Regions from separate parts of the Homo sapiens genome. Here region 1 is linked to region 2. Evidence: fine-mapped QTL for protein levels in blood plasma. Region 2 holds a variant in brackets. A gene starts in the other region. All regions are shown on their reverse strands.

Region 1 (4,387 bases), not on the chromosome of region 2:
GTACTGAGCTGCCTTGGACCAGGAGTCTCCAGCCCTGACTCTGCACTGTGGTCAGTCCCTCCCCTCTGCATGGAGGCACCCCCATCCTGGCCCTCAAGTGGCCCAGCCTCAGCAGAGGGGCCAGCACCCCAGTGAACAGGTGCCTCTCCCAGGGTTTCTCTACTGACTTCCATGATTCCCAGAGAGGATCGCAGAACAGGAGCTGAGCGGCCCTGCCTGGTTTGGGGAAGGTACCATTTGTAAAGAAGGCCACATTAAATAAGCTCACATTTAACATGAGCCCACGTTAAATAAAAGCCAGAGCCGGGGAAGACAGAACTCTTAACTGCTCCAGACTCAGGTGGGGACCTGCTGAAGAAGCATCCACACTTGCCATTCTCAGAGATGCTATGTGGCTTTTCTGAGCTGAAATGCAAAGCTGGGTTTTGGATCACTCTTCTCCAATAAAAGCCTATGGGCACCTTCAGGCTGCTGTGTGGGACGTGGCAGGACCTGGAAGCCTCCTACTTGCTCAGACCCAAGAGGGAAAGAGTGGATGTCAGCTCCACAGATCATGCAGAGGAGTTACGGGTGGTGGGCACCCAGCTGTGCCTGTCTCCAGCCCAGCAAGGGCACGTCTCACACCCAGCCAGGCCACAAAAGCTTGGGGTTGGGGTAAAGGAAACCCCAGTCGACTCTTCTTCTCCCATAGAGGTGGGGCATCACTGTCCCACTCTTGGAAGAAGGATCATAAAGCCTTGGATGTGGGGACAGTTACAGTCCAGGGAGCAGGGGAGTGTAGAGGTGGTGGAGCCTGGGCTCCTGCTGAAAATCAGAAGTGGGACACCAGCAGGACATGGAGGATGTGGGGAGCCTGGGGGTTCCTGACTTCCCCTTACTGCCCTGTTCTCACCACTCACCTGTCTTTCCTGGGTTTCCCTCACCTAGGGAAAAGTGCTCTCTATTGTGCTTTTCACCGTGAAAATGTTTGCCTGCCGCTCTCAGATCTGCCTGCCCTGCTGTCACTCTGGGCCAGTGCTGGAGCTGGCACGGGTGGTGAGGCAAGCCTGGCATCCAGGCCAACCACGCTGCTCCTGCCCTCACCGCGCAGCAGCCGGGGCTTCTCTCCATTGTTCTTGCCCTCCCAGATTTTCAAGCTACCCCATAGAAGGGCAGCCTACAGTGTAAACACTTCATTAGGTATAATTCTGCCTTCACAATTATTTTTATTTTTGCTTTGGATCTCAAAAGCATTTGACTCGCCTTTAATATTTGTTCTTTTGAACTCAGTGTTTTTCCTTTAAAAGAGAAAAGAAAGAATTTGTCCTTTCTGTGAATGGTAAAATTAACCCAATTCCAGGAATTGTTTGGCATTTCTCTACATTTCCACTATCCATGTAAAAAGCTGGTGGAGGCTGAACTAAAAGTTAGTTTCCCTGCTTCCCCGACCTTTTTCTTCCAGTGGATTTTATATGGAAAGCTCTCAGGTACAGCATTGCTTTCTGCTTCAGTAAGAATGGTCCTGCTACCATAACACATCATGTGCCCCTATTTGAAGGTGGTTTGAGGTAAAAGCAAACTTCCGAGAGAAAACCATGATCTGAATATTTTGAACCAATTGTACAGTGCCCATATGCTGAACCTTTGCTTCTCTGCTTCGAGACTGGATATCTACTTGTTATCTGGATGCTTGCTTTGGGGTACACTCAGCTGAATGTTAGTGGCACCCATATTCCTCTCAGAACTAACTAGGCAGGCACAGAGTGAAAGAGTTTCAAAGATATCCTTTCTAAGCGGAGGTTAAGTTTATACAATAGAAGTTTATAAGCTTACCACCTTTAATTAAGCTTACTGCCTTTAATTAAGTCAACATGCTATGTAAATTAATATTAATATTAATATGTGAATCAGACCATAAATAAAAATTAAAATTCACACAAAAGATAAGTTAAGGTTTGCCAATCCACTTTATAAAGGAATTCCTTATTACTTAATAGGAATCTTCACTTTACCAAAGGACTGAACTTCAAAATGTTCAATGCTCTGCTAACACATTGAAAACAGGATTTGATTCATACACAGCTTCTCAAAAGCAGATCCCATTTAGTAGAGTGAGGTCTAACTAGTCTGAAAATCGCATGCAATCCCTTTAATGCATAATTCCCCATTCCCTTTGGTTCACACTGTGTTGAGCCAACAGAGCCTCCTGCATGGTTCCTGGGCTCACAACCCGTGCAGACCCTGACATCTTCCCAAAACCCAAGGCACAGAGAATGTTAGGCGACTTACCCCTGTGATCACAGCACAGTCAGACACAGTTACTAGGAGGAGCATGATTGAGACTCGCGTGGCACCTCTCATGGTCACTTGGGGTGAAGGCAAAACACTGCCTGCTTAGATGCCTCTCGCTTCCTCCCGCTCAGCCTTGTGCCTGGCAAGCTGGGGAGGCCAGGCTCTCCTGCATCCCCCGCCTCCTCCCAGATGTTTACACTCAGGATCCAGGGCTGCCTGTGGATGCCTCATCTCTGCTCTTCCCTTCTCCAACACCGATGTTACTCAGATGATCTCAGAAGCGAAGATGAGACCTGAATCTCTAACAACATCAAATCAACATCAAAACCAATAAAAATGGATACTTGGGGGGCTTTGACGGTTGCTCTAACTCTCCCAAGAACGCAGTGATTCAGACAGTTATGTATATTTCACTCAATGTTCTTTTCTGCCTCTGGGTATCCTTCTATCCTACTTGGGGCAGAGGAAAGCCTCTGGTAATGAATTAAGGGATTTGCAACATCACCATTTATGCTTCCCTGCACCAAACTATGCAACATACAAGATTATTGGTTCCCTCTCACTCACACCAAGACTTATCTAGGCATTTACCATGGGCTCAACACAGAGGTAGCTGAGAAGACAGAAGAGGGTGAGGTGGTATCCTTATTTCTCTAAAAGGTTAAAATTATAGTGAGGAGCCATAAGACAGTGAGGAAAAAAAGACCAGACTTGTGGGGCTGATGTTCCTAAGTGACACACACATAAGGATTTGCTCTCTCATGGGCTCAGGATGAACACCAGCAAGTGTCCCTTGGTACAATGACCCAAGGGCAGAAAGCCAGCAAACATACAGGGCACACACTCTCTCAGTACCCTGCAGAGCCGAGCTGGTATGGGCTGTGGCTGAAAGGTACCAGAGCCACACCACTGGCCTTCCAGTTTTAGGGGTGAGCATGAGAGTGGCCTTATCCGTGAGTGTATAAACACGGTGGTCTCAGATGCCAGTCTGGTGGGAAGTTGACTTTCGGGATGGCCCCTCCGCCTGTGAGGGAAGCCCCTGACCCCAGCCCTCTCTGTGTCATACGACCCAGAGAGAGCTCCCAGTGCTTTGTCAGATGATCTGCCTTCTCTCCACAGTAATAAAAGCCAACATTTCCCAAGGTATGTGTTGCAATATGTTAATACACAAATAAACAAATAAAAGACTTCTACAGTCAAAAATTTGGGAAACACAAACCGGCTTGTTTTTTGCAGAACTTTTCAGGGCCTTTCATATGCTAATAAGTGTTTGAAACACCAAGTGGGAAATGCAGTTTGTAGTATTTCACAAGCAGATTCATCCACAAAACCTTTCTTATCAAATGTCACAGGGGTCTAGGGTTTCCACATTGAAACGCTGATAGGCATTTATGAGTGCAGAGAGGAAGGTTAACTAGCACGGGAGCTGGGAGCTAAGCCCCCAGAGGCAGATGCTTTGATTCAGATCGATGGCTTCATGACCTTGAAAATATTGCTAATCTCTCCAAGCCTCAGTTTTCCTATCTATAACATGGGATAAGAATAGCATTTACATCATACGATTTTGCGAGTATTCATCTATTTATTTATTCATTGACTATATTTATTGAGAGCCTACTGTATAGAAGACACTGTTCTTGGCACTGGGAATATAGCAGTGAACAAAACAAAACCCTGTCCTCATGTAATTTTGACTATAGTCAAGGAGACGGGTAATAGACAAATAAACAGATTTGTAATAAAATGGCCAGTTGTGTTGAGCACTGTTAAAAAGGAAGGCCAGGCGCAGTGGCTCATGCTTGTAATCCCAGCACTTAGAAGGTAGAGGCAGGCGGATCACTTGAGGTCAGGAGTTCGAGACCAGCCTGGTCAACATGGTGAAACCCCATCTCTAGTAAAAATATAAAAATTAGCCAGCTGTGGTGGCTCACGCCTGTAATCCCAGCTACTCGGGAGGCTGAGGCAAGAGAATCACTTGAACCTGGGAGGCAGAGGTTGCAGTGAGCCGAGATCGCGCCACTGCACTCCAGCCTGGGCAACAAAACGAGACTCCATCTCAAAAAATAAAAAAAAGGTGGTGGGGAGAAAGGCAGGGAAAGCAACAGACCTTGACAAG
Region 2 (4,387 bases):
TAGCTGAAGGTGATAAATGATGTTAGCAAGCAAGCATAAGATAGCAAGCAAAGACTTCCTAACTGACCTCAGAAGTGGAATAACGCAACAGTTCAAAATTGAAGAGCAAAAACGACCTAAGGCAGCTACACTGTACAGTGCCTGGCACACAGCAGGTAACCAATAAACTGCTGTTGATCAGATGCTGGACTAATACGTGTAGGTTTATTTTCTTCCTTCAACACGCTGTACCTGTGTTGGATACAAATAAGGCCTTGGGAGTCTGCCCGAAGAAATTTAAAAGACCCTTCAATCAAAAGGTCGCTTGTTGGATGATGTAACTAGTTAGGAATGGATGCACTACCTGTACCAGCTCAATAAGACGCATGTTCCCCATCACATAACAAATACTTGTCTGCCATAAGGGCTTAGAGTCTGATTTTCTGATGAGAAATAAAGCAGTATCTAGAAAAACCCAGAGAATGATATTCCACAAAACGGTAAGCATCGGCAGCATTTCTTAAGAGTATTACACATCCAGCAAATCCTCTTTAAAAACAAGACATTCTAAAATGCAACCAGTTTAGCAGTATTTTTAAGACAAAGACAATGCAAGTTCATTAACCTAAAATGGAGCACAAGCTAAGCAAATAACTAAATCAAAGAGTTCTTCTCTCCTTTTCTTTTGTAAAAATGGGGGAAAGGTATTTTTTTAACACATTTAAAACTTGATTAAAGCCATTCAAATGTTTAATTCATCAGTGTAACCAAAGCTCAAAGCACATCAAAGCAGGACCCATCAGCGGGTACCCAGAAGGCTCCCTCCAAAGGGCGGAGGTAAACACATACACACACACACACACACCACCCCTAAAATTAGTGATTCTGTCTTTGTATAAATTACTTGTAGAGTAGCTCGAACCCATTCCTTCAGAAGTTCTGTGGACTCTTGAAGATAGCACAAAACTCAACGTTTGTTTTTCAAAGAGGTTTTAGCCAACACTTTGGCCTCTATCTAACTCAGACTTCCGGGTTGAAATATGTCTTAGAAACTATACCTGCCTACTTGAAAAAGCACCAAATCTAGAGGATGATTTTCATGGGTGTGAAAAAACAAAACTAAACCACATTCTTTTCTTGGCAGTTCTCTTTTCCCCACCTTCCACTTCAATTAAACTTATTTCAGAATCAACTCGCACACATGCAGGGTCCACTACATATATAAAGGGGAAAAAAAATATCAAAAATAATGGAGATGCACTAGCAACTCTGCCTTTGCAGAAATCATTTCTTCTTAAGACAGAAATTCCTCGCTATTTCCAGCAACACCATTCAACAGGCAAACTTTATTTCCACTGGCTTTTAAAGAGCTAAGCTTAAATCTAAACTCTAAGAGGGTTCAATTTTCTACTAATGAAAACCCCCGGACAGGTTTTTCAACATACCAAAACGTTATATTTTTTTATTCACCCTTTTGTCTCTCTCCACATCCACCACCATCACAAGCAGCAGCAGCAGGAGCATCCTCAAACGAAGAAAACCCCTCCAAAGTGCCCCGAATGTGTGCTGCTGCTGGCTCTGAAGCCGTGTAGAATTTCGTAATGGAATGTGAACTGCTCGTCCGGATCTGGGCTCACGTTCTATCTCCTAACCAGTAAGGAGCGAGGGAGGGCAAATCTGCTGAGCAAGGAGAAATACTTTCCTCCTCTTTTATAACCCATCACGGATGCACGGCGGCCGAGGGGCGCGAGCTGCACGCGGCGCCTGTCAAGCGGCCCGGGCCCGCACCCCGTGGGGTCCCCGCGTCCCCCAGCTCCCCGCCCCGCCCGGAGAGAAAGGTGGCCTCGCCCATCGGTGGGCTCGGCCGACGCGCCCCGCACTCACGCGCGGCCGCGGAGCAGGTCACATCCTCGACGCGCCCTTGGCCCGGTCCAGAAAACACGCCGCTTCCCAGGGAGGGGGTCGGCGACGGGAAGGACCTCCCCTGCTCCTTAGCAACCATTAAGGTCGCAGTTTCCTAAGAGACCGCGAGCGGGGAGGGGGCGCGGGGGGCCCGGCCCAAGGCTTGTGCGGGAAGTTGGGGGCGGGGGGGGCAGCAACAGGCCCCCTCCCCCCACCCAGCTAGACGCCGGGGGCCGGGATGG[G/A]AGGAGGAAGGGAAGCCCCAGAACTCGTGAAAAACTGGTCCAGCGGGCGGCGGACAAAAGTTTCCGAGCGCGCTCCACAGCTGGGCGGCGGAGCGGGCCCCGGCGGCCGGCCCCGCCTCGGATGCTCCCGGCCTCCTTCCTGTGCTCGTGACGGCGCCGAGCCCCCCACCCCCCCCGCCCGCGAGGCAGGCTAGCTCCACACCGAGGGCTCCCACGAAAACACTCACCCCGCCAACGGAAGGGCGAGGGAACAATACGTGCCCGCACGGCTAGGGCCCGGTCCCCTCCTCCCCAGGCCCCCCGGGGCGGTGGTCGGCGTGACCACGACCGCCAGCCGGGAACCCGCGAGGGCGCGGGGCTGCCCGCGGCCCCCTCCCGGCCGGCGCCGTCCGCCCGGGAGGTTCAAAGTCCGCAGAGCAGGGCGCGGCGGATGCTCCCACCGAGCAGCCCCGAGCAGGCACCCCCGCGCGAGCACCCCGGGCAGGCACCCCCGGATACCTTAGGGCGGCGGCGGGAGGGCGGGCGCCGTCATCTCCGCGCTTCCCGGCCCGAGAAGGACTCGAAAGTATGTAGGAGAAAAGTTTCCCCTCCCACATGGGGGGGAGGATGTCGAGGGAGAGAGGGCGGAAGATGGAGAGCAGCGCTGGGAAGATGTTTCTGGCCGGCGGTGCGCGCACCATCCGAGTCCCGGCGGTGCTGGTTAAAAATAAACTCGGCGGCGCGGGTCGGGCCGGATTCCTGCGCTCGGACGGCTAATATGGATGCGCATCAGGTCCTGCTGGCGGGGCGCTGCGGCGGCTCGCGCTGGGAGCTGGTTGGCAGAGCCGGCGGCTCGGGAAAGGGAAAAGAGCGGAGGAAGGGGAGGAGGAGGAGGAGGAGGAGGAATGGCCCGGCGCGCAGCCCGAGGGGAGAGGGCTGCCCCGCTCATCCCTGGCCGCCCCGCCGGCCCGAGCGCACGCTGCGCGGAGTGGGGCGTGCGGGTCCCCGGCTCCGGGACACACCGAGTTTCAAAAGTACAACGCGCTCTGCAGACTTCACCCTCCCCATCCCCAAAGTTCTTTAAAAGGTCGCTCCGGCTGTGCCCCAGACTTCTCGCTGCCGCCGGCGTACCGCGAGTCGGAATCCGGGGCACGTACTTACGGCCGGGCAGGACGCTTGGCTCCCTGGCATGATGCGTTGGGGACCGGTGGGCTTCAGGGAGAGACCGAGGAGAGATGCAAACTTGTTCCGGAAAAGGAATCAAAATGGCGTTTCTGGATGTGCAAAGTTCATCAACTCCGCAGTCACTTCCCCTCCTCCTCTTCTCCCACAGGGAGGGAGGTGGGCGAGGAGCTGGCGACCCCGGCGCCCCAGCCGTCGTCCCGGCCCCCGTCTCGGCCCCCCGCCCAGCTTCCTCGCCCGCACGCTCGGAGTCTCGCTCTCCCCCTCTCACCCTGATAAGTAGACACATCACGTGTTGCTCCTGCGAGTCTCCTGGGGACGTGTTACTGAGCGGCCGCGGCGGCGGCGGCGGCGGCGGCGGCGGCGCTCGGACTGGGGGGGGTGAGGGGGAGGACCGCCGCCCCCGCCCCGACTTTAGCAGGGTGACCGCAGTTGCCATCCCGGGATGGATGGAGGTGGAGTCCCCTCCCCACCCCCCACCGCAGCCCCAGGTTTGCCCTACGCCCTCCCAAGGCGCCCCGGGCCATGGGAGGGCCGGGCTGCCCGAGGGGAAGGGTCCGGGAGGCCGCGACTGGCTGCGATCCCAATCGTCCCGTTGCTCGCGGGCCACCTTATTCGGCCACCGCGCCCCCTCCCCTGCAGCCCCTCGCCGCGGGCGACTCCCCGCCCCCGGCTTTCCATCACTTCACTCCGCAGTTTCACTATTTTAACGGAGGCGGGGGAGACACGGTGATGCCTCGGAATTGCGAGAGGGGCACCTCAGAGGCGCTGGAGTTGGGGGGATGGGGGGCGTAGGGCTCGGGGCCCTGGCCTGACGCCGCCCCTCTGGGTCTCCGAGGCATCTGCGAGGGGGAGCCCCGCCCGCGCCGTTTCCTTTCCACGCGGTCCTCGCTCTGCATCCAGGTGGGGCGAGTGGATGATGGGGCAGGAGATTAAGGAGCAGGCGCTTCACCCCGCCCCTAGCTTCGAGCCGTTTCTCTCCCGGGGCCATCCTTCTTACTCGGGCTGCCGCCCTGAGTGTGCTCGCCGTCTAACAAACTCAACTCCGACCCGACTTTGGTCCCCCTCCCTTACCCACACCCCACAAAGGATGCTTCAGCGGG

Alleles and levels. Alleles are on the strand shown, and positions count from the first base shown. The strength of an association depends on the size of the effect and on how common the allele is.
With allele A in place of G in region 2, the plasma level of the protein whose gene starts at base 2,408 in region 1 is lower (weak association).

Evidence for each region. A credible set is the group of variants that fine-mapping cannot tell apart. PIP is the chance, under the fine-mapping model, that this variant and not a neighbour inherited with it causes the effect. The UK Biobank Pharma Proteomics Project read protein levels with antibody pairs (Olink). The fine-mapping took linkage between variants from a reference panel, not from the people measured, so its PIPs are less certain.
Region 1: PROK1 starts here. The variant in region 2 is the best candidate, but not a certain one, in a credible set for the plasma level of the PROK1 protein (UK Biobank, PIP 0.63).

The regions. Positions count from the first base shown.
Region 1 is chr1:110,449,170-110,453,556 of GRCh38, reverse strand. PROK1 (prokineticin 1) reads right to left here and starts at 2,408. Exons shown (of 3, transcript NM_032414.3): 1 at 2,269-2,408. The coding sequence starts at 2,340.
Region 2 is chr6:7,106,937-7,111,323 of GRCh38, reverse strand. It overlaps RREB1 (ras responsive element binding protein 1), which reads right to left and starts at 3,363. Exons shown (of 13, transcript NM_001003699.4): 1 at 3,264-3,363. RefSeq lists silencers at 1,995-2,084, 2,105-2,594, 3,385-3,604, 3,665-4,144. The variant G/A (reference allele first, on the strand shown) is at 2,124.